5 separate regions of the Homo sapiens genome follow, and all the other regions are linked to region 1. Evidence: fine-mapped expression QTL. A gene starts in region 1. Each other region holds a variant in brackets. All regions are shown on one strand. Distances are between the middles of the regions.

What was found. PIP is the estimated chance that this variant, and not a neighbour inherited with it, causes the effect.
Region 2: its variant is fine-mapped to the expression of FHIT in whole blood (TOPMed, PIP above 0.99).
Region 3: its variant is fine-mapped to the expression of FHIT in skeletal muscle (GTEx, PIP 0.93).
Region 4: its variant is fine-mapped to the expression of FHIT in monocytes after LPS (Fairfax 2014, PIP 0.95).
Region 5: its variant is fine-mapped to the expression of FHIT in whole blood (TOPMed, PIP above 0.99).

Annotation. Positions count from the first base shown.
Region 1 is chr3:61,248,419-61,253,418 of GRCh38, reverse strand. FHIT (fragile histidine triad diadenosine triphosphatase) reads left to right here and starts at 1,967. Exons shown (of 10, transcript NM_002012.4): 1 at 1,967-2,118. LOC124909387 (a long non-coding RNA gene) reads right to left here and starts at 1,827. Exons shown (of 2, transcript XR_007095939.1): 1 at 1,792-1,827. RefSeq lists enhancers at 1,870-2,164, 2,229-2,288, 2,419-2,548, 2,689-2,818, 3,099-3,378.
Region 2 is chr3:60,682,889-60,688,021 of GRCh38, reverse strand. All of the region lies in intron 4 of FHIT (fragile histidine triad diadenosine triphosphatase), which reads left to right. Among named protein-coding and RNA genes, the nearest start is that of MIR548BB, 68 kb to the right of the region's middle. The variant G/A (reference allele first, on the strand shown) is at 3,032.
Region 3 is chr3:61,133,896-61,139,028 of GRCh38, reverse strand. The region is part of intron 2 of FHIT (fragile histidine triad diadenosine triphosphatase); the gene reads left to right. Among named protein-coding and RNA genes, the nearest start is that of FHIT, 110 kb to the left of the region's middle. The variant G/A (reference allele first, on the strand shown) is at 2,384.
Region 4 is chr3:61,830,584-61,835,716 of GRCh38, reverse strand. All of the region lies in intron 2 of PTPRG (protein tyrosine phosphatase receptor type G), which reads right to left. Among named protein-coding and RNA genes, the nearest start is that of PTPRG, 270 kb to the right of the region's middle. RefSeq lists an enhancer at 5,092-5,133. The variant A/CACACACACAA (reference allele first, on the strand shown) is at 2,650.
Region 5 is chr3:60,381,500-60,386,632 of GRCh38, reverse strand. The region is part of intron 5 of FHIT (fragile histidine triad diadenosine triphosphatase); the gene reads left to right. Among named protein-coding and RNA genes, the nearest start is that of MIR548BB, 230 kb to the left of the region's middle. The variant A/G (reference allele first, on the strand shown) is at 2,314.

The sequences.
Region 1 (5,000 bases):
TGAATCCAATGCAAGTTCTATGTCTTCATGCTCTTTGTGAATGTATCTGTTGCTCAAGGTCGTGGGTGACCTTGAGCCCAGCAGTCAGCATTATCCACAGCTGAAGTAATACCTATGTGCTCATATTAGGCTATCTGACAACAGTGCAATAATCATTAGACACCACTGTTTAGACCCTGAGTATGTTCATGACATTTGCCTTTTGACTGCTAAGTAGAAGATGTAATGATTATAGGCTGATGCTTTCTCAGGAGGAGGAAAGTTATTGAGCTTTACAGTTTCAAATGCTTCTGATTTTCTTCCACGTTTAGTCTGGCTGCTGACACATGTGTTGAAATCTCTCATGTCGATCAGCTTGAGAATAGCTGGGACTGCTGAGCTAAGTCTGTGCTCATAAAAGCAACAAAGAATTGTATTACAGGAAATGACCCCAAATTGACAGAAGATTAGGCTAGGAAGCCTGAACAGGTGTTTTAATCTCTATGCACAAAATCAGTCTGTACATATATTGCTCACATTCCTGCTGTTTTAACTATATTTTTTTTTTCAATTTCACTTTGTTATTCACAATTTGATAATATTTTATGTGGCCATGGTGTCTGTGTGATGAACTATAATCCAATGTGACATTCTCTGAGAGTCAAGCTTCCAAGGACATCAGATTTTCACACCAGGACACTTTGTAGGACACCTTGCTACTCTCCATGGGATTCAAATATTAGAAATAATGAGAGATCTAAGACTTGATGTAATTGCCTGCATGTAATGAATCAGGCCAAATAAAAAAGTGAGAGACAGAGAAAGGAAATGGTGCTAAGGAAAATGGGGACCTATCTTAGTGTTTGTCTGAGAGAAAACTGCTCTTTGTTTTTCCCGATGTAATGGCAAGAGTCTGCAGCCAGGAATCTAGTCCTTGCTTAGGAGCTGCATGACCTTGTGAAAATTACGTAGGTGTTCTGCAATTTGTAATTGCATTTATTGTAAAATTAATTTTACTTTTCATACGTCACTAGACAGAGCATTTTGAGGTTAGGAATTGGGTCTGAATCAATGATTTCTCCAGCACCCACATGGCATTTGGCACAGAATACATCAATAATGATTTTGGATTAAACAGGGGAACAAGCACAAGGAACCATGGTGGTCAGAAACGGGTTGATCTGCACCAGAGAAAGGGAGACTAGGGGAGAAAGGTCACTCTAGATTTCGTTCAATTATTGAAAATACGGTGTATTTACTATGTGCTGGGCACTTTTCTAGGTGCTAGAAAGACTACAGTGACCAAAACAAAAATCCACATCTGCAGGGATCTTGCATTCTAGTGAGAAAGTAAGATGGTAAAAAAGATAAATACGTAAATTTTATACAATGCTTCGTAACGACAAATGCTAAGGAGAAAAACAGCACAGAAAAGACAGAAAGGAAAAGAGAAGGGGCGCATGTGGTGCAATTTTGTTAGGATGCCAGGGAGGGCTGAGCGTAGTCGTAAATGACCACATTATTTGATGGATCAAGCCAGGGACTGCAAGTCTGTGTTTCTGAGAGACACATAAAGAAAAGAAGGCTTAAGGAATCCAGAAAGATCCAGAGTGGGGAAATGAAACGAAAAGAAATCCAGCCAGTGGGAAGTCGTGAAGGGATAGTTAAACGCGTTTTGGGAGGAAAGAAAAAAGCAAAAGTGCGGTACAGCCTTTCGTTACACGTGAAAAGAATCATGTTTCTTTTTCTAGTTAGAAAAAGCCAAAGATTGTGCGATTTATGCCCCAAACCCCCTTGTAAGGGGATTCTCACCTCAACTTGTCTTCTGTGGTCAGTGTTTCCCGCCCCTGAATCAGGGTTACTGTCACTATGGCTTTCAATTGGCCCGGCGTAGGCGCATGCTCTGCGCGTATTGGCCTCCGCTCCTGTCCCCAGACAAGCGGCCATCTTGGGTCCCGCCCCTACCGTGGGGTCTTCTGGGAATTGCAGTCCCCGCTCTGCTCTGTCCGGTCACAGGACTTTTTGCCCTCTGTTCCCGGGTCCCTCAGGCGGCCACCCAGTGGGCACACTCCCAGGCGGCGCTCCGGCCCCGCGCTCCCTCCCTCTGCCTTTCATTCCCAGCTGTCAACATCCTGGAAGGTAGGGGCGGGGAGGCAAGCCCAAGTGGAATACTGTTTCTGGGGCGCGGGTCTGGGTTTCCACGCGCGTCAGGTCATCACCCCGGAGCCCAGTGGGGCCGGCGCCGCTCACGGGGCGGTGGGCTTCTGTCCCGAGTACTCTTCCGCCCCACGAGGGTCTCAGGGTGGGGACTCGGGCCCCCCAATTCCCAAGCACCGACCCTAGCCCTAACCCGTTCCTCCTCCACCGTGTTTATACATTGGGGAAACTGAGGCACGGGGCCACGCCAGCGGGTCCGGGGACGCCACAGCTCTTGGCTCTGGGGGTGTAGTCGGCACCCGCCGTTTTGGGATGGTTCGTCAGTTTCATAGACAAGTAGCGAAAATCCGTCCCAACAGGTCTGTGTTAAACACGCAGCTCTGGATTCCCCTAAGGGGTTGCTGAACACGTGCCCAGGACAGGAGCAAACCGGAGTATAGAGAAGGCAGCATTTTGGGAGATAATTTTACATTACTACTTCAAAAACAGGCAAAGAGGCATCGAATTTATTGTTGTGGGAGAACTCATCGGTACTTGGTCGGACTTTCTTACACTTATTTTATGGTTGTTGTTTTTATTTTTAGCGTCAAAGGGGGGAATTTTAAAGGTATATCCAAGTTGGTGGTGGTGGGGGGTAAGGAGGCAGGTTAGTGGAACTTGAGATGCATCTGCAGATTTCTCTGTAGGCTCACATTCTGCCCTCGCTGTGTTACCTTGGAACAGCCACTCACAGCGCTTATCTGGGAAACAAGGAGCTCAATGCTCCCAGGTCAAGTGGCCAAAGGATGTTGCCTGAAGCCGAAATCTAAATTGAGGTTATGCTTGTGAAAGTTTACCACTTGCAGATTTACTGCTATTATTATTCTGGTCTCTCAGAAATGTGCTGGGACCAATAGAAAATACTCACAGTGGTTGTTTTAGTAAGGTTCTGACCTGGGCCGGGCCCAGACTACCAAGGGTGGTCCCTACTCGCACCTGATGTTAAGCCGGATCTACCTGAACTCTCCCTCCTTGGCTTCAGCCTGCGGCCTGAGGCCTTGGCCGCGGAGGCTTCTGGGAGTTGCAGTCCCGCCTCTTGTTTCTCGTCGGGCAGGTACTCCACCTCGTGGCGTGCCATTTTGCACGGCGAGATGTCTCCTGGGAGACGAAGTCTCGCTTCTAGCCGTTCTGTAGAGCAGCCGCTTGACTCGGAACTACAACTCCCATGTGGACCTGCGTTCATGGCTGCCGGCCTGTGTCCACCTGCTGCAACCTGGACTAGAAATATTTAGTAAAGAAAGAAGTCTAGGGTTTGTGTGTGTGTGTGTGTGTGTGTGTGTGTGTGTGTGTGTGTGTGTGTGTGTGTGTGTTGTTATTGATTGCATATGCTGTTCTAAGTGTTAGATATGGGATTGTTGTATACGGTGTTCCAAGTATTAACGTACATGCTTCCAAAACCACTAACACTTGACCATTTAGAACCTGTTCACATGATCTCTTTTTAATACTACATTTCCCATTTGTATATGAGAAAAAACTTGAGAAGATAGCCCATGATTACACAGCTAGCAATATAATATATATTCAATAAAATATATGTGTTATAATTTAATCCTCTTAAAAGCTATATGAGAGTGAGAACCATTTTTATATCAACTTTACAGATTAGAAAACTAAGGCTAGGAAAGTTAAGTAACTTGTTCAAGTTAAAACACTGGTGAATAAAAGGACTGAGACTGTAAGCCCTTCTGCTTAACAGTCTCTGCTTAGAGAAAGACCTTACCTTACAGAGCTGAGGAGGAGTCCAACCTTTCTGGCTACAGAATTTGGAATCTTTTAATTATACCATGCTGCCTCTGTACTTAGATACTAAACATTTGAGCTGCAAAAACCTTTGAGATCATTTAATTCTAATGCAAAGATCTTGGAACACTTCTTGGCCTATAATAAAGATTCCATATATATATGTATATAGTTTTAGAATACCTTTATTTTAGAGATTAGGAAACTGGCCCAGGTGGTAAAGCAGTTTGCCCAAGGTCACACAGTTGGTTTGTGTCAGAGATTAGACTAGAACCAAGCATCTTATTTTCAAGTCCAGGGTTATTTTCATTCCACCAGCAGTCAGCTAGCAGGAACACCAGATGTGTAGCTCTTTAGATAATGGTTTCTCCTCTAATTTGCTCTTTCAAGGCCACAGACCAGGACCAATTGTTATAAATTATCTTATTTATTATTGGTAAGGTTGTAATACTTCATGAATTCAACAAATGTTTTTTGAGCTTCTTTATATGGTCATCTCTCTTAAGGTGCAAGGACCACATAGATGATAAGGACTTAATGCATTCAGACTGGAAGGACCTTATAAATAATCTAATCTAACTCTTATTTTATAAATGAGGAGAGTGTGTTACGAAGTAGTCTGCAATCTTCATCTCATGCCCTCATGTCAAAAGTATCCCGTTTCTGCAAGAAGGCAGGTTTCTGGAGTCCTCACAGTAGTGTGGATAACCTTTTTAGGCTTATGCTTTTCTATTTGGTATCCTTGTCTTGGCCTTTTTCCTGCAGCCTTTGATAGAATGCTTTAGGAAATGTTTTTGTGTCCCCATCTTTATTTGTGTGTTTATGCAACTTCAACATGCTCTGTTTCTATTTTGGAAGTTAGTCTGGTTTTGGCTCCCATTACTCTTTTCTCTTTTGTTCTTTCAGACACTTGAGAACAAATTCTGACACTATGTTTGCATTCACATGTTAAAATCTGACCCTCTAATATGAACTCTCAGAAATCTATCAAGTTGTGACTTTCATTTTGGAAGACATATTGGCCCTTTCAATTATGTATTCACAGATAATAAGGCAGGTAACTCTGGTCTCTTCTGAAAGAT
Region 2 (5,133 bases), 570 kb after region 1:
GAACAATAGAATGGACAAGATTTATTAGGCAGAAGCGAAATTAAAAAAAAAAGTAATCTTGGCAATATTTAGATGAAATAGAATCAAAGGCTATAAAAATATTAAATGCAATCAAGAAGGTTATATTTTCTTTAAGATAGACTTCACAATGAAGATAAGGCAGTTCTGAATTTTTATTGACTTGGTAACAGCCTCAAAATACATGAAACAAAGGCTGTTAGAAATATAAGGAAAAATTGATGGAAGTAGAATTGTTGTATGACACTTTAATACACTTTTATTGATCTTTCATGGGTCAAATAAACACAGAATTGATAGAATATTTTAATAATCTAACAAAGATGATTTAATAAATATTTATTAAATTTTGTTCTCTAGAAATAAGCAATACACTTTTTTAAGGAGCCATGAAGCATTTAGAAAAAAATTGATCATATATTATATCTCAAAGAAACCATATTAAATTATGAAATATAAAGTGTTAACAGCCTCCATGTTCTGCCTACACTGAAATAGAGCTAGACATTAATAGCAAAAGTTTAAATGCAAAAATCAGTAGCTTGGAAAAGAGAAATAATGATAACAAAAACCAAATTTTTTTCTAAAAACTCCAGATTCAAACAGGAAAGGAAACTATATAATAAACTGTTAGGAGAGTAAGAACTCTATGTATCAATATTTTAAATGGCTAAAGCTGTATTTAGCAGAAAATTAATAGCCCTGAGAACTTTCATTATTAAAGGAGAGTAACAAAATCAATCTGTGGAAAATAAAACTAATGAATTAATAAATAGAGACTCCTTTTTTTTCTGTTAAATAAGACCAACAAGCAAATAATATTTATTTAATGAGCTAGAAATAGGAGGAGCTTACGCAGCATAATACAAGATATTTACTGGAAACCTGTAGCAAGGTATGTTATTTAACGTTAACATTGTAAATATTACTTTCACTGCCACAAATGAGATGAGTGCTTGTGATTTTTGTAAAAGTTAAATCCCAAAGAACAATTTCTGCTTCCCATGTAGTCTGTAAACCCTCACAAAACACAAACAGCAGCAACAACAAAACTCTCTGAGGGATCTGAAGAATGAACAAAGGCAGCAAGATTCTCGAAGGGGGTTGAAGACACCTGGAAGTAGTATAGGTTAAATTTCTTATGACTATTATCCTGAGGTCAAGCCACAGGTAGGGCCACACAGAGTGGCTGAAACTCCTGTAGGAAGCTCAGTCTTTCTGGCCTTATGAACCAGGGGACAGAGTTTGGAGCAACCCCAGCTACTGGAAAGTAAGGGAGGAATGTCATTAAAAAGAGGGCCAGAAAAGGAGCATTACAAATTTTTGGTGTAAATTCTGCTCAAATCTCTGGCTGACCTTTGGAATATACATACACAGGCAGACCAAAGCAGTCAGTGAATTTGATAATATCAATATAGATTTTCTCTATGAAGAACAGAGATTGTATTTTTAAAAAGGATTAAAAAAAAAGCAACCAGAGCCTCAGGTTCCTATGGGATAATTCTTTTAACATATGAGTAATTGGTTCCCCAGAAGGAAAGGTGATAGAGAATGGGTCATAAAAATATTAGGTTGGTGCAAAAGTAATCGTGGTTTTGCAATTACTTTTCATTACAAAACCCACAATTACTTTTGTGCCAACCTAATATTTGAAGAAACAGTGGCCCCACACACTTCCCAAAATTGGTGAGAGATAAATGTACACGTTCAAGATGCTGAGGCACATTGTAATCAAACTGCTGAAAACCCAAGACACTATCTTGAAAATAGCCGGAGAAAAACAACACACTATATACATGAAACTGCACTGCTAAATACTGCCAACCTACCTTCAAAAACTATGAAAGCAAGAAGACAATGAAACAATATCTTCAATGTGCTGTAAGGAGATATGACTATCCAATCCCGAAGTCCATATCCAAAGATACTCATACTTCAGGAACGGAGTCAAAATAAAGTTGCATTCAGAAAAACAAAAACAGAATATTTATTGCCAGCAGACCAACTTACACTGTAAAAAATGCTTTGTTCTTTGGGATGACAAGAAAAAATAGATGAAAACTCAGATCCTTATGTAAAAATAAAGAAATCATAAATAGTAAGATAAATATAAAAATCAATTTTTTCCTCCTAATGTTTTAAGAATATGTATGTTTGTTTAAGTAAAAACTATAGCATCATTTTTATGGGATTTATAATACAGGTAGATGTAATTTCAATGACAACTTGAATTTAGAGGGAGTTTGTAAATAGATTCATACATGTGTGAGGTTTCCATATTGTATGTAAATAGTATAATAGTAATTCTAGGTAGACTGTAAAAAGAGAGGTTGGATTGAATTCCTGGTAATATGTGTTTAAATGGAATGAATACTCGTTCTTAGAATGAAGAGAAGTGTGCAGAATGGAACTTTGCAAGCCCTTACTGGCCCATATGTCACGGGGTGGAGATGTCACCATTTTCTATATGGCTCCAGATCAAGCAATCTCTTGACAAAAAGCAAGCTGGCTTCGAGTAACCTTCAAACGGAGTGTACCAGGCCAATGCAGAAGACATAACATGGTTTGCTTTCTTTCTCCCGTCCATTTTAGTATCTTAAGTACCAGCAGATAGAAGGTCCAGAAAAAAGAAAGAGGATGACATTGTAGGGGAGGCCAAATTTTCTCTCTTAGGGTTTTTTAGCTGGGCCTGAGGATTGAATTGACATAAGGCAGATCAGCGGGAGAAAAGCATACAAATTTAATTCATTCAATTTTTATGTGAGCACAAGAGCCCTCTTAAGGAAATGAAACCCAAAGACAGAGTTGAAAGTTGAACACCTATGTACTGAATTGGGAAAGGAATAGAAAATTGTGAGTATGTGACAAAGCCAACGGGCTTGGGCTAGGGAGGTTAATTGGGTAGAGAAGTAACTAGGAAGATAAGGGTTACTTTAATAAGGTGTGTTTGTTCAGATTTCTCTCAGCATCAACTTCTCGTCTTTGATGATAAGAACGCTACTTTCCCTCTGGC[G/A]TAGGGAGGACAAGTTATCTCCTGTTTCTAAGGAAAAGAAGAAAGCTCAGAGTATATTTTTTGTATCTGCTGTTTTTCCAAGTGTCTTTAAGCTCAAAATAGTCAATATACTAGAGCAACATATTTTGGAGTATTGTGTTCTGAACTCCTTCAATCTTTAGCATTTCTCTTCTGTCATTCTTCAGGCTCTTGAGCACTTTTGAGAAACTAATATGAATGGGAAAGATGTAATATTTACTCCCAGGAAGGTTGCTTTGGTGATCTAGTCTGTGAACTAGACTCAGGAAACTGTCTGGGTATTGGAAAGGAAGTCACGGATGCGCAATGGAATTTGTAAAGGGGTGGCACAGCTCTTGAATACTCTCCTTGGAAGAGACCCTGGCACGGAGAGAACAGAGTATTAACCTCACTCTGAGGTTGGGAAGACTAAGGGAATCTGAGGTGTGAGGAGGGATGGAGACGACAGGTCACACAATGTGATGGAAAACCGCACATGGAGTGGAAAGAACATGAACTCTGGAGTCTGGAACTCCTATATCTGGACTTGACACCGTATTCTGCTATGTGGCCTTCGGTGAGTGTGCCAAGTTGAATATTGGCTCTGCAAACGTATCCACATCAAATTTCTAGAGCTTGTGAATGTGACCTTGTTTGCAAAAAAAATGGTCCTTGCAGATATGATTAAATTGAGGATCTTGAGATGAGGAAATCATCCTGGATTATTTTGGGAGACCTAAATGCTATTACAAGAGTCCCACCAACCACCAGAAGCTGAAAGTGGCAAGGAATGGAATCCCTCCTAGAGCCTCTGGAGGGATCTTTGCTCTTAAACATCTTAATTTTGGGCTTCTGGCTTCCAGAGCTGTGAGAGCCACAAAGTTTGTGGTTATTTTTTATTGCAGCCACAGTGAAGAAGATAATAAAGCCAGCTACTGACCTCTCTGAATCTCAGTGCCCTCATCTGTAAGATAGAATCAGCTAGCTACTTTATAGCATTTTTCCAGGATTAAATGAGACATGTAAAATAGAAAACAAACAAACAAGCAAACAAAGAAAAGATAAGGAACATGCTGAGAAAAAAATATAGACACCCCTTGTTTGATGTTACTAATTGATTCCTGATGATCAGATGTATTACCCAAAAATGATTTCCTTGAGACAGTTTGCCATTACTTAAATGGGAAAAAATGTGTTATATGTCAAACCAACCCTCTAGTGAATTTCTTGAAGTGTAAGTAAAACACAGTAAAATAACCATAGTAGAACAATAATGTCACACTGAGACTTAAAATGCAGGCATATCTATATCTCAGAGATACTGCATGTTCACTTCCAGACCATCACAATAAAGTGAATATTGCAATAAAACAAGGCACACAAACTTTTTTGTTTCCCAGTGAATATAAAAGTTGTGTTTACAGTCTATAGTAGTCTAGTATGCAATAGCATTATAAAAAAATATGTTATCTTAATTTAAAAATTTTTTTTGCTAAAAATACTGGTGATCATTTGAGCCTTCAGTAAGTCATAATCTTTCTGCTGGTGGAGGGTCTTGCCTTGATATTTATGGCTGCCGACTGATCAGACTGGTGGTTGTTGAGGGCAGAAGTGGCTGTGGCAATTTGTTAAAGTAAGAAAACAGTAAAGTTTTCAACATCAGTGGCTTCTTGCTTTCACGAATGACTTCTCTGTTGCATACAGCACTGTTTGCCAGCATTTTACCCACAATAAAACTCCTTTCAAAATGAGTGAATCCTCTCCAACCCTTCTTTATCAACTAAGTTTATGTAATATTCTAAAGCTTTTGTTGTCATTTCAACGATGTTCATAACATCTTCTTCAGGAGTAGATTTTACCTCAAGAAATCCTTTTCTTTGCTTACCCGTAAGAAGCAACTCCTCACTCATTCAAGTTTTATTGTAAAATTACAGTAATTCAGTCACATCTTCAAGCTTTACTTCTGATTCTAGTTGTCGCTATTTCTTCCACATCTTCAGCTCCTTCCTCCACTGAAGTCTTGAACCCCTCAAAGTCATCCATGAGAGTTGGAATCAACTTCTCCCAAACACCTTTTCATGTTAATATTTTGTTGTCCTCCCATA
Region 3 (5,133 bases), 110 kb after region 1:
TTGATATAGAGTTGCATACGGGGCTTTATTTATGGGCTAGTAAGGGCCCACAGCTGTGGTTCTTCTTTATTTTTTTATTATTTAAAGATGCAGGACCTTCAGCTGATTTCATTTGGTTGGAAATTCTAGAGCAGCAGCATAACATTTTGAAGTCAAATGGTTAATTTTCTTTGGAGGCCTTTCCTCCTTTGGTTATTGGATGCTGTGTCTATGTTCTTTACACTCTGGCAGTGAGGAGGAAGCCCTTGTGTGACAATGGATTTAGTGGGGTATAAATCTACCTAACTAGCAGTTGGATGGGATCTGATGAGGGTTGGCCCCAGAGCCAAGCCACATTAGCCGAGTTAGAAGGATGTGCTGATTTCAACTTCAAGCCACGGGGCCCAGCAGAGAACTGCTGGGAAGCAATAGCATGGCCTGTTGTGCCACCGTCATTTTTGTCAGCGCCACCATCATCACCATTAAGCCTTTATTAAGTGCCAGTGTGTGGAGCTCCCTTAGGTGTCATTGCAGTCTGACAGGCAGCTGTGTGTTTTAAATACGAGCCTTGCTCAGGGCCATGAGGTGAAAAGGCCCAGCTGTAATCCTAGGCAGGCCCACAAGCATGGCTGCATGGTTAGTTAGTGGCTGTAGCAGGTTTTTGTTTCTGGTGTCTGCTCAGCCCATGGCCCCTTTCTCTAAGAACTGTCACTTTATCTTCAAGGATGGGCCCTGGTGATCAGGTTTTTAACTTGGCTCCCAGGCTGTGGCTCAGTAGATCAAAGATCCACAGCTGACTCAAGCTGGACCAGCCAGGTTGTCTTTCTCAGAAGTGTGGTCTTGGACTAAGACATATTTGTAGATAGACTAGGTAGATGTGTAAACTTGGGAGCAGTGGGAAGCCATGTCTTAGATTAATTCAATAATCCTTGTAATACTCCTATGAGGTGGGACCTCTTCTTATTCCCATTTTGTAGAAGAGGAAACTGAGTCACAGAGCGGTTAAGTAATTTATCCAAGGTCATATAGTTGGTTAATGGCAGAGCCAGGCATGAACACAGGTAGTATGAGCTCATACTTGTAGCCACTGTATAACTGTCTTTCGGAGCAAGAGAGAGGGAGAAAGAAAGAGAGAGGAATACAACAGGCCTCTGGAGATATGCAGATTAAAAGACTGTGTGAGGCTGCAGGGAGAGAGGTGGGTATGGGGAGAGAGTAAGACTGATTGACTAAGAGAGTAGCTGCCTTGATTCTGTAGGCTTTCTAGCTCCAGGATCCAGACCTCAGTGTCTGCACTTTCTAACCTTGGGCTCTGAGAAGTATCTCTATGTCCTTATAAATAAATTTCCCTTTTGTGCTCAAAGCAGTTTCAATGGATGTCTGTTACTTGCAACCAAAAGAGTCTTGACTAAGTGACCACACTGTCACAGTTTGGTAAAAAAGACAGTGGGTCATCCACTGGCCTTTGTAGCCCCAGGTATCTTTACATTATCTGTAGGTAGCATCCAGGCTAGTAGAGGAGAAAGGCAAGTACACCAGTGATTGCAGCATAGTGAGACAGGGCTCTGAAAGAGGTAAGCGCATAAGTTGCTATAGAAACTTAGAGACGTGGCCAAAAATTGAGACTGGGATAGGGTGTGGGGAATCAGGTCAGCTTCTCAGAGGGGAAATATTTGAGTTGTGTTTTGAAGAATGGGTAGGATTTAGCCATATGAAGAAGGGACGGAAACAAGGGCATTACAAATAGTGAGAAGAGTGTGTACCAAAAAAAAAAAAAAAAAAAAAAAGAGTGAAACCTATGATACGTTTTAGAAAAGGCAAACTATTCAGTGTGATGGGGAAGAAGGAAGGAGCAGGGATATGATATAAAACTGGAGTTCTTGGGGACTGTGCCACAAAGAGTCTGCAGTGCTAAGCAATGGAGTTTGAACCTTTGCCTGTAAGCTATCAGTTCATTGAGTATCCAGTTCCTTCCCTCCCTCCAACATGGAAGCATCTCTAGATTCTGAAATTACAAAGATTATATTCTGACAACATTAAATGCAGTTTTAGAAACAACAACAATACATGCAGAATCCTAACACCTGACACCAGTGTTTTCATTTTTGCCACCTTATCTTCTAGTTGTCCTCAAACACACCTGTTTTTGCACATGGTTGCAATCCATTGACATATCATTTTCACTTTCCAGTAGATTAAAAAGGTTTTCCATGTTTCTATGTTGTCCTCTCCTAATTATTATAACAGCATGATAGTCCTTCATTCGACAGAAGGTTTTCCTGAGTACCAACACTGCTCCAGGCAATGTGTTAGGCTCCGGTGAAGCAAAAGTGAATGACTTGGACACTCCTGCCTTTGAGGAACTCAGGATCTGGTATCCCAGTCTCTGCTGAAGCACTTAGCC[G/A]TACGTATTTTAAGCATGTGGTTTTAATATTGTCATTTTATTTAAAAAGATATTCAGTTCTTTGAGGGTCAATTTCAAATCCTTTTCTTGTATAGTCACTGTCCTCCTACCTCCAACCCCCATTGTAAGTACTCTGTGACTAAAACATAGCCACATTTTCCTCTGATTCTGTGTTCATGCACTACTTACCTAGTTTTTTGCATATCTTATGCTTCAAGCACCCCGAAAGCTGTTTGATGACTAACCATAAACAGGTTCCAAATCAAGTTTTTGAGCCAAGTTAATTTGATTATGAAACATTATCTTGGTTGTGGCAAATGCCCAGTGGTCATTATTTTAATGATACAAGCCTCTACAGCCTAAACTAATTACAAACCAGCTTTATTCTGGGAGTGGCGGGTGGGTCGGGTGAGGGGGGTGGGGGCGTGGTGACGGTGGTGGTGGTGGCATTGCCTAACCAGCCTCCCTGAGGCTAATCCAAGTGTCTGGGGATATGGGATATGATCACTCTCTGCTTTTCCTTCACCTGGTCCTCCGTGGATGTTGTCTACCTCATTCCCTCTCCCTCCTTGTTCTTGTGTTAAAGAAAATAGCGATGGTTGGCCAAAATTCTCCTTAAATTAAATTTTGCCTCCTACCTCCAGCATGATCATGAGCCTCCAAATTAAAGATGCAGACAAGTTTTCAATCAGATTTGCCTTTTGTTCTGTATTTAGATGCTTTTAGTTTTTCCCTTTATGATGCTTTTTTTGACTTCAACTAGCTCTGTGCTTTTGGTGGTATTTTGTAGCTGGTTTTTGCTCAGTTTTCTATATCTAAACATCTTTATTTTCTGTATTTCTAGTCCACGTATTTGATGAAAACACATTGATCAATTGGTATAAATTTTTTAAAATTTAAATAAATGTATTCATTAAAGAGTCTAGAAGTGCTTCATTATCCATGTAATGAAGAAATAGACAGGGAAGATAAATAAACTAAATTCTCTAGTAAAACCAGAAATTCCTCATATCTGATTTTACTGTGTGTATGTGTGTGTGTGTGTATGTGTGTGTGTGTGTGTTCGAACACAAGGATGCAAGTGTGGGTTATTGACATACACTTAAAATGAAATAGGTTGTTACCTCATAGATCTTAAAAGCTTTAAAAACTCTCTAAGCCTCAGTTCCTTCCTTTATAAAATGGGAACAACAATACTAATGAGTATATACAGTTGCAGGGATGATTTATTTGATGATGACTATAAAGTGCCTGGCACATAGTAAGTGCTCAATAAATATCAGTGGTTAATATGCCCTTGACCTAGAGGAGTACAACGCCTTCTCTATGATCTTAACTTTGAGCTATTAGTAAGTCCCTAAGTTCATATTTTTATGCAGAGGCCAAAAATCATTGAAAGAAAGCTTAGACCTTAGAAAACTTCCCAAGCCACTTTCTCTTAGCATTCTTTTTTTTTCTCCTTAACTAGCCTGGGCTGAATGATTAGCCATTTCCACCTAGTTCTCACCAACACTACCTTTGTGGCAGATGCCCCTGTGGCCATTTTCACAGTCCCTCTGTGAAATTATCTCTGATTTCAGCAACAACTGTGGTGACCAGTTTTGTCCAAGTCAGCTTCCCACCTCTAGCCCCTACTTTTCTGCTTTTCTGCTTTCTTCCCCAAGGGCATCTCTTATGCTGGGAGTCTGCATGGCCTGGGCTGAAGAGGAGCCTGGACGTCTGTGGGAATAAATGCCCTCAGAGGCTACTCTCAGCCACTGGGCATTTGAACATGTGAATAAGTGCTCCGGCCTTTGCGATTCAGGTGAACAGTTCTGGAGGCAAGCTGTGTACTTCTCTGGAGGTTCTGGCCAAACCAGCCTCTTGCTGGTTTGGCAAGTGGTAAACTTGATAATGTACCCTTAGTTGGCTTTTGCTCTTCCCTTTTTACACCCTATTTCCTCATCTCTGCTTCCTGGAGTCATCTCTCACATAAACTCCTGCACCTAAGTCCTTGTCTCAGGTTTTGCCTTCAGGGCAACCCAACTCATGACAACCCTAAAATTTTCTGTCTTCTTGATACTTCTAGGACTCTGCCCATATAATCTTTAGCCCCAGATCATTTCTCCTTCCTTTGAAGAGATGTCTCATAGCTTTTTGAAGTCAGACTCTTTTTCTTTGATCTTGATCCTATCTGCTCTTAAATCCTGTGGGCCCACAGACCATTATATCCTGTTTACTGCTATACTTCCAATATAGAATGCTTGGACCATAGTAGAAGCTCAACAAATACTTATTGAATGAATAATTATTTTCTTGCATGTTTTTTAGTTTCCTTCTGTGCACACCTGCTGTTTTCATCACTGTTTTCAGCTTTTCTTTGGGAGTTTGGGATCTCTTGCTTTAGAAATAGACACTGCCTGAATCCCAGTGCCCACCACTTTCTGAGGCTTATGAGCCAACCCCCTACCCTTGGTAATATTGGGCCCCACTAAGCACTTTCTCTTTCTTGAGCTCTACCTCCCTTGACCTCTTTGTGTGTGTGTGTGTGTGTGTGTGTGTGTGTATGTGTGTGTGTGAGACAGAGTCTCACTCTGTCGCCCAGGCTGGAGTGCAGTGGCGCGATCTCAGCTCACTGCAACCTCCGCCTCCCGAGTTCAAAGCAATTCTCCTGCCTCAGCCTCCTGAGTAGCTGGGATTACAGGTGCCTGCCACCACGCCTGGCTAAATTTTTGTACTTTTAGTAGAGATGGGGTTTCACCGTGTTAGCT
Region 4 (5,133 bases), 580 kb before region 1:
TAAAAAGGTTGGTTTAAGAACCACTGATGTGACACTTCAGACTACCAACAAGGCCAGGCCATTAAGGACTTAAATAGCAGGAACGGGCTGGGCGTGGTGGTTCATGCCTATAATCCCAGCACTTTGGGAGGCTGAGGTGGCTGGATCACAAGGTCAAGAGTTCGAGCCCAGCCTGGCCAACATGGTGAAATCCCATCTCTACTAGGAATACAAAAATTAGCCAGGTGTGGTGGCGTGTGCCTGTAATCCCAGCTACTCAGGAGGCTGAGGCAGGAGAATCGCTTGAATCCAGGAGGCAGAGGTTGCAGTGAGCTGAGATCGCACCACTGCACTCCAGCCTGGGGAAGGGGGGAGTAGGAATGACATGATCCCACTGAATAGGAAATTGACTTCCACATTTACAAAGGAGGCTGGAGCAGGAGAAAGTAACAGTAGAGTCAGGAAGGGCTGACCAGAGGCTAATGGAATAACCTAAGCCCTTTTCTCTCAAGAGAATATTGAGGTAATTGAGGCACAGTAACGACCAAAGGAAGGCAGCCTGCCTCTGCCACAATGAGACACCTGGAAACTACCAAACTGGACAGCATAATTCTCAATACAAGTATAAATAATCCTTCCATGAACCTGACATTTATGATGCTGAATCTTAGGTATATTTGGACTTTATTTCTATATCTAGCTGAATTTCAGATAGAAAACACAGCCAAAAGGATTGTAATTATTAAACACAACCAAAATCAAAACCCAAGCTTTCACTAGCTTGGGTGGGCAATCTAGATGAAATATAATTCAATTGTCTAATTTCTGAGAGCTGGATTCCCAATATGTTTGCCTTAGGAAACTTCCAGGATGAGAAAAAATTGGCAGCTCACATCAGAACCAAAATGTTCATGTTTTTTTCTTTTTGAGATGGAGTCTCACTCCAGCCCAGGCTGGAGTGCAGTGGCACGATCTCAGCTCACTGCAAACTCCACCTCCTGGGTTAAAGCAATTCTCCTGCCTCAGCTTCCTGAGTAGTTGGGACTACAGGCACACGCCACCATGCCCAGCTAATTTTTGTATTTTTAGTAGAGACAGTGTTTCACCATGTTGGCCAGGATGGTCTCGATCTCCTGACCTCCTGATCCACCTGCCTCGGCCTCCCAAAGTGTTGGGATTACAGGCATGAGCCACCGTGGCAAGCCTTATGTTTTTAAGAAAAAGGATCTCACTAGGCTAGTCTTGAACTCCTGGGCTCAAGCGATCCTCCCACCTCAGCCTCCTGAGCAGCTAGGACTACAGGTACATGCCACTGTACCTGGCTAGAAGCACATTTTTAAATCAATTAAGCTCAACAGCAAACAAAGTTTTGAACTGTAAACTGACCCCCTGCCAGGGTAGTATCTTTGAGAAAAAAACACTCTTAAGGCCATAAAATAATTTATATGAAAAAACTTGACAATATAAATATTCCAGATGATTCTGAGACCAATTTTTATCAAAGCTCCATCTAACAGTTGCAACCACAAGAGACTTTTTGTGAAGAAATGACTCAGGAGAGGCAACATGTCAAAGAAAGAAGAAAAGATGCTGTAACAAACATCCTTCCAAGGCAAATGTGTTCTTTGACAAATAACCTAAAAGAGTAATATATAAGCAATCCGTTATGTTTACTTCCCAAGAAAAGCATCTTCTGAAATCCTAAGCTGACCTCCATGTTATTAATCATTTTAAGTTACTGTGCTGTGACTAATTGAAGCCAATAAAGTAGATGAGAAATAAGGAAGACCCATAACTTTGTGGATGAGAATACCTAACATTTACACAGAGCTCTCCTTTCAAAGATGAGCTTCCATAGAAAACACTTCAACACGGCTGGGCGCGGTGGCTCACGCCTGTAATCCTAGCGCTTTGGGAGGCCGAGGCGGGCACACTGCCTTAGCTCAGGAGTTCGAAACCAGCCTGGCCAACATGCTGAAACCCCGTCTCTACTAAAAATACAAAAAAAGTAGCCAGGCGTGGTGGCGGGTACCTGTAGTTCCAGCTACTCAGGAGGCTGAGGCACGAGAATTGCTTGAACCCAGGTGGCGGAGGTTGCAGCGAGCCGAGATCACACCACTGCACTCCAGCCTGGGCGACAGAGTGAGACTTGTCTCCAAAAAAAGAAAAAGAAAAGAAAGGAAAACACTTTGCCGGAATGAGGAAAGCAAGTGAAGTGCCTGGGGATAAAGGATTCACCAGGGCATTGGCACACACGCTCACTACATCCTCGCAGGGACTCTCGCTTAGGTCTGGAATTGTCACAAACACCACCCCAAGCGCAAGATCTGACATTCTGAAATAAACTAGATTAAGCCAGTAAAAGCCCTAGAGATTTCTTCTGCACGTTTTTAAGCAGATTTGCTATATCAAGCACATGCACACTGGATTTTGACAGATGTAGCAAATTGCCCTGCAAAATTGGGGGCATTATAGTGAAAGTCCTATAGTATATATTTAGGGTCATATGTAGAATTCAATTTATAACTTTCAGTCAGGAGACTCTACCTGCACCTCAGGCTAACTCTACTCCACCCTTCAAATAAAAAGAAGGAGAACGAGGTAATGCTCATAAATCAACACGTGGATAAAGAAACTGTGTACACACACACACACACACACACACACACA[A/CACACACACAA]TGGAATACTACTCAGACATAAAAAGGGATGAACTAATGGCATTCACAGCAACCTGGATGGAATGGGATACTATTATTCTAAGTGATATAACTCAGGAATGGAAAACCAAACATCATATGTTTTCACTCATAAGTGGGAGCCAAGCTACGAGAATGCAAAGACATAGGAATGATAACGCTGGACTTTGGGGACTCAGCGGGGAAAGGGTGGGAAGAGGACGAGGGATAAAAAGCTACATATTGGGTTCAGTGTATACTGCTCAAGTGATGGATGCAGCAAAATCTGATGAATCACCACTAAAGAACTTACTCATGTAACCAAATACCCTGTTCCCCAAAAACCTACTGAAATACAAACTAGAAATAAATATTTTTTTTAAAAAAGTAAGTAAAAACCAAAGATCAGAGCAGCATATTCTGCATCTCAGTTTTCTCAGCTATAAAATGAAGATAATGATACCTACCCTACAAGATCCACTGGGGGAAGAGGGTGAGATAATGTCAGATAAGGACCTGATACCCTGAAGGCTGTACACACAGCACTTAACAGAGCTAGTTCCAAAGCCAGAAAGCCTGGGTTCAAGTCCAGGTCAGTTTCTTCCCAGTTGTATGACCCTGCCCCAGATGCTTACCCACTCTCTATGCTCCAAAACTCTGTTCTGAAGATGATCACAGTACCTATCTCATAGGGTTATGAGAATTAAATGACTTAGTCCAGGGAAGGGGTTTTGAGCATATAATAATGTTTTTAAAAAGAGATAGTTATTATTTTAGGCACCAAATTCAATATTCTAACTCCATTTCCAAATCCAATAATTTTGAAAGTGGAGCTTCTATCTCCATGTCACAACGAAAAGCACAGCTGTGGGGAGAATGTGCCCATTACAGCTAAATGGAAATGTGAATTCATTTGCATGGAATTGTGCATGCAAAGCACCCCCTTCTTGTTAGGCTGAACAACATGATTACACTTATTTTGGCAGATATAATTTTTTGATTGACTCTTTCTGGGATATTTATAAGATACAAATGTATAAATCCATGTATAAATGAAATCATCTAGAAACATTTTTAAAATATTACATTATTTTTAGAAAAACAAACCACCTAGAATAGTTATAGACAAGATGTTGTTTATTCTCTTTTAAGTAATTTTTAAATCTTCTCATCTGAACCAATTAGAAAACTTTTACCACCCATCAATATCTATCCTATGTGTGTGTTTATCTATATACAGTTTGAACCAGCAATTCTTATGAAAAACTATTTCCTTTTTGCAATGGAGAAAAAGGCACAAAAATATCATTTACCCATAAGACAGAAAACTCAAAAAGCACCCAAAATTTGGTATACCTTTTTCTCTATTTCCATGGTCATTGGCATTTTCCTAACTCATCCATTCCTGAAATTCCTAAGTCATCAATGTGAGAAACAATTGTAGATAGAATAACTGAATTAACAAAGTAAGAAGATACCAGATGGATGCTGTCCTCAACAGAATGAATGAATGGTGGCTTGAGTCTGCTTTAACTTTAAGCTGGGTTGAACATCAAGCAAGAGAAGTAACATGAGGTTAAAAAAAACAAAAACAAAAACAAAAAAACAGGTGTCACCTGCAATTTTTAAAATGGAACAAAAGGTCCTTCCTGTGTGTGGTATATTTATAAGTAAAAATTATCCCAATGATTTTATGCAAGTCAAATGACAAAATTATTCACTCAACTGCTTCCTTTCTTAACTGCTTATTCCTTCTCTTCACCATAAATGGGTATTATGCTCTTTCACAAAAGTTGTGAGACAGATGTTTACACACATATTTCTATATTTCAGTGAAAAATTCTGCAACAGCAGCTAGGAGTATCCTGGGTTATGCCTGAATAATGCCTCCATGAAAATAGGAAAGATACTCATCAGTATCAGTATCTTTTTATCAGTGAGATTAAATAGATGGATCACTAAAGGAATATATTTTGCAGCTAAATGTCCATCACTGACCCGATATTCCTCAAAAACTTGAGAATATCAGACAGTACAAGCTAAGGCTTCAAAGGCTGAACCCAGATGTCTGTTATTTAAACATTCTCATTAGGTCTTTGAAAAAAGAAAGGAAGCCACCAAGTAAAAACAAAGCACAAATTTCACTACAGCTCCACAAATTTTGATGCATTTATACCTCCCGATAAAGAGATCCATCGGCAGGGCGCAGTGGCCCATGCCTGTGATCCCAGCACTTTGGAAGGCCGAGGCAGGTGGATCACCTGAGGTCGGGAGTTCGAGACCAGCCTGACCAACATGGAGAATCCCCATCTCTACTAAAAACGCAAAATTAGCCAGGTGTGGTGGCGCGTGCCTGTAATCCCAGCTACTCGGGAGGCTGAGGCAGGAGAATCACTTGAACCTGAGAGGTGGAGGTTGCAGTGAACCGAGATCACGGCATTGCACTCCAGCATGGGCAACAAGAGCGAAACTCCATCTCCAAAAAAA
Region 5 (5,133 bases), 870 kb after region 1:
AGAGAAGAGGCAAGAAGTGGAGTGTGAGGTCATGCCAGCATGAAGAAAGATTGCTGTTTACCAGAAGATGCTCAAACCTTGTCCTCTGGGTATATATGAGAGCAGTCAGGGTAGTCAGCGGTTTCTATTGAAACAATGACAAGAGTACAGGAAGAGGAACAAGTGGATGGTGCAATAACCATGGATGTTTTTATAGATATTGTGAGGTGAAGCTGCACTTCGATAGTCATTGCCTTGTCATTATTGTTGAATTGTTTCATGTTGTTCTAAGTCCTTGAATCCCTCAAATGTGCTGCCGGAAAGGTAATTCCTCAAAAAATGTGCAGCTCACAGATGGTGGTTGCGGCTCATAGGATCTCTGGCTTAAGACCCTCGCTGTACAGTGGTAGTCAGTGGGTGGGAGGAGGGGTGACAAGAAGGCAGGGAAGGAGAGAGTCTTCCAGAGGCAGAAGAGACCAGTGAGTAGCGTCTATGGAACCACACTGCCGGGGCTCAAATCTTGAAATCTTGGTTCTGCCACATGGTTGCTCTGCAGCTCTGGCCAAGTTACTTACTTGCCTTATGCTTCAATTTCCTCTAATGTAACCCATGGATCAGTTACCCTGGGTATGGCACTCAGAAGCACCTGCTACATAGTCAGCTCTAAAGAGTTCGTTATTTCTATTATTTCACCTAGGAAAGATATTCCCAACTTTTGACATCGATTCCCCAGGGTAGGGTTAATCTCTTAGAGTAATACTCTAAAATCTTATATGGACCAGGCACAGTGGCTCACATATGTCATTCCAGCATTTGGGGAGGCTGAGGCAGGAGGATCCATTGAGTTCAGGAGTTCAAGACCAGTCTAGGCAATGTAGTAAGACACCATCTCTACCAGAAAAAAAAATTCACTGGGTATGGCGGTGCATGCCTTTATTCCCAGCTACTCAGGTAGATGAGGCAGGAGGATCCTTTGAGCCTGGGAGATCAAGGCTGCAGTAGGCCATGATCGTGCAACTGCACTCTAGACTGGATGACAAAGTGAGATCCTGTTTCAGTTACAAAAATTGTATTATATAAATATTTAACTCAGAATTATAGTATACATACTCTAAGGATAACTAACTTATATAAAATGATTTATAAGATTGTTCAAAGTTGCTATTTCCTTTTTCTTAATTATTTTATTCAGCACCTTTATGTCTAGTTTGTAGTAATAAGTACTATAAAACTAAGTTTTCACAAAGGCTGCTTTTGATTTCCTGCACCTGATGTATATTTGTACACTTAACAGTTGTATACACAAAGCCATGTATACTGCATTTTGTGGGTGATTTAAGGCATTTTTAAAAGTTATTGAGTACTTGAGAGCTTAATCCACAGTGGATGCTTCTCCACCATAGCCCATTAGCTGGTGGTCATAACATTTACTGCTGCCTTGTATTTTTTAATCTGCTGGAATAGACATTATTATTTCCATTGCATCTTAAGTTGTTGAATCAAGTAGAATTCAGAGTGGGACACCAGGAATGGGAGAGGTTATGGTTATATAGCAAATGCTATATTGTATGCATTTTTTTCCTCTTAATTGTTTAACAAAAGTCTGTTGTGTTAGCAACGTATCTCTTCATTTTTCCTTGCCATAATATATTTTTTCTGCTTAGAAGGCCATGCCTATTACTGTGCAGTTAGAACAAAATGAACATATTTTAAAACTGTATAGAGCGAAAGAAAGGGAAGGCATTGAACGTAAATTTAGACTTCTCACAATAGGTTTTTATATAAATGATTTCTGAGATTTTTTTTTTTTTTTTTTTACTAATGTGAAAATACCTCCTAGCTCTGTTCATCTCTCACATAGTGTTTCTGATAAAGTTTTGTAGTGTATCTGTTGAAGAGATACTATGATTCAAAGTGCTGGGTTTTTGTTGTTGTTGTTGTTGTTTTAAGATTTTGTAATGATTTTCTGTAGTGATTCACAATGGGGTTGGCCCTTGGCAGTTTTTATGTGAGTGAAAGCCTGCCTTATCCTTGCACGTTTTGTTTATGTCCATGACTGACCAGTTTCGTGGTAATAAAGCGACAAAGCAAGAATGACTAATAAACTATCAGGGGTTAACTACTGTGCTTGCTTTTCCTTTCCTGGAGTGTGTGTGAGAGAAAGAAAAACATACGACTCTCTCCTCGCATGGGGCTAAAGATACCAAACCTTTAAAGTGTATAACTGGATTATCTCAAAGGCAAAGAACATCATTAATAATTAGGCTGCCACTTAATTCTACTTTATATCATCATCTCTGTTGTGAAACTTAAGATATTATGGAAGTTATTATT[A/G]GATTAGTAATAGTCTCTATTAAAAATTATCTCCAATTTTTTTTTTTTTTTTTAAGACGGAGTCTTGGTCTGTCACCAGGCTGGAGTGCAGTGGTGTGATCTCAGCTCACCACAACCTTTGCCTCCCGGGTTCAAGTGATTCCCCTGCCTCAGCCTCCCAAGTAGCTGGGATTATAGGCACGCAGCACCACACTCGTCTAATTTTTTGTATTTTAGTAGCGACGGGGTTTCACCATGATGGCCAAGATGGTCTTGATCTCCTGACCTCGTGATCCACCCACCTCGGCCTCCCAAAGTGCTGGGATTACAGGCATGGGCCACCTGCGCCTGTCCTATCTCCAAAAATTTAAGCTGATTTTTGACATAAACATTTTCCAGAAGTGATTTAGCACTGTAAAGATGGTCATGTTTTTGCTTTTTTGCAATTAATATGTCTTTTTTGACAGTGAGAACTTGACCCAACAGTATTTAAAGGTTGATGATGGGTTAAAAATTTTGCTGTTGTTTAGAGAGACAGGATGAATAAGGATGAAACAAATAACAAAATAGCCTCTGTTGAAAAATGCTATTTTTATAGTAGATGTACCTCCTAACTCTCTAAATGGTCACATGGACTTGGTTAAGCTTGACATCTGTGAAAGACAAAATGATTTTTTTTTTTCAGTAGCTCATGTCCATAGAAGTCCTGGAATAATCATTTAAATGATAGTGATCATATGTAGCTTTAGGGCATGGTTTTTTCACCTTGGCGTTGTTGACATTTTGGGTGGGATAATTCTTTGTTGCAGGAAGTTTTCCAGTGCATTGAAGTATATTTAGCAGAATCCCTGTTCTGTACCCACTAGATGCCAGTAGCACTCTCACCTCCAATTATGAGAACCAAAAATATCAGTAGACATTGCCAAATATTTCTGGGTGGGGGTTGGGGGAGCAAAATTGACCCTTGGTTAATAACCCCTAGCGATTTGGAAATACCTAATTAAAGTTTCCAGTGATTTTAAAAAATATTGTTATTATCGTAATCATAAGTGGCAAATTATTAAGGCCATTATAAAATGAGATCTCACCCAGTGGTCACAGATGAAATAAACCAGCTTATTTTGACCTCATTACAGCTTTAGGAAGTCACTGGCAAGTAAGCGCAAAAGAAACTCCCATTCCCTACATATTTTTCTATCGGTAAACATTTCTGTCGCTCTGTTTTCAATGCCAATTCATTTTAGTAATGTAACTCAGATGGTTTAGAGTTACAGTAGATAATGGCTAATCTGCCTACTAAGTAGAGTTTGTTTTTTCCTAGTGAATGAAAATGCAAAAGTATTAATACAGATGCTTGTGTGCTGCTGAATTTGATTTGACAAGCTAGTCGTGACATTACCAAGAGGTCTGTGGAAGGTAAAGGTGTTGAAGCATGAAGTGGAAGCAGTGTTTGGGGAAAAAGATTGCTAATGATAGAGGTCTGATTTCTCGTTCTCTATGTAATTCCAAATGCATGCTGTGCTTGTCATTTAGAAATTCAGACTAGACCAGATGCTGCATTTGATATGTTGTATACAGTTCTTTTTAGTTAATGAAAGCCCTATTGGAGTCACAGTATCCAAAAAACAATTCCTAAGTGGGGGTAAAAAAACCTCTGATTAGATTATTGGGTTCTATCAGGGAATAATATGGACTCAAGAATGGAGCTTTATCAGTGGCATAGTTGTTTACTTGACAAGAATCAACAGTGATTTTCAGAGTATCAGGTTCACATGTAGGTAAAATGGACATTTAAAAAAATTATCGGTGTTACTTGTATTACCAATTCATACAAGTTTTCTGGTTTAATGAATAAGAAGATGAATTGTCTCAGATTAGACCCAGATTGTGATTACGGATCGTATTCAGGACTTTATTTAACTCTGTATGCCTGAAGAAAAACACTTCGCTCATGGCTTATTTTGAAATGGCACGTGGAAAGACACGTGTAATTTATGAGATGTGGCACTCTTGTTGCATTTTTAGTATTTTGTAGTTTTATACTGCTGCTAATGCAAGTTCTTATGAGCCATGTTTGGTGTATGTGGGCACCACTCCGCAATTCTATGTCCGCAAGAGATGTCTATTCCAAACACTGTACTTTTTTTCTACTCCAGGATGCCAATTAAAATTAAGTAGGTGTACATGTGAGGCACAATCCATTGGCTGGTCTTGATTTAAACCCTGGTCAAGGTGGTAAGTTAGAAAATGTTACTCTAGGCTAGCCACTGTCCAATGGAACCATATTTGTGCTAGTATAGTAGCTATTAAGCCATATGTGGCTACTGAACACTTGAAATGTGGCTAAGGAATGGAATTTTTAATTTATTTAATTTTAATGTAAATACCTACTTGTAGTTACCACCTACCATATTGGACAGCACAGCACTAGGCCTTTGAGACACATTTTCTGAGACACATGTTTGGATTTGGGATTGTTTACTGTGGGTGTTCTGAACACGCCATACCCAGAGTTACAGAGTTACAGAGCCATTATCATCACACTATTAAGCCTCTAGTCTATCCATGTAGAGGATAGGAGAAAAAAAACAAAAAAGGAAAGAAAGAGTAATGATTGTATATACCAGTTGATACTAGAAAGTTAAAGTAGGAAAGCCTGATTTACAGAAGCTTAATATCAAACATAGTCATCTCTACTATCGAAAGAGAGATTGGCAGTCAATGCAGATATATACTTTTAAATATGTTCTCTTTCCTGTTCTTTGAAATATTATCTGAGCAATAGAACAGCTTTATATGTGCTTTTTTTTGTTGTTTTATGTCTAATGATCTTTTCTTTTC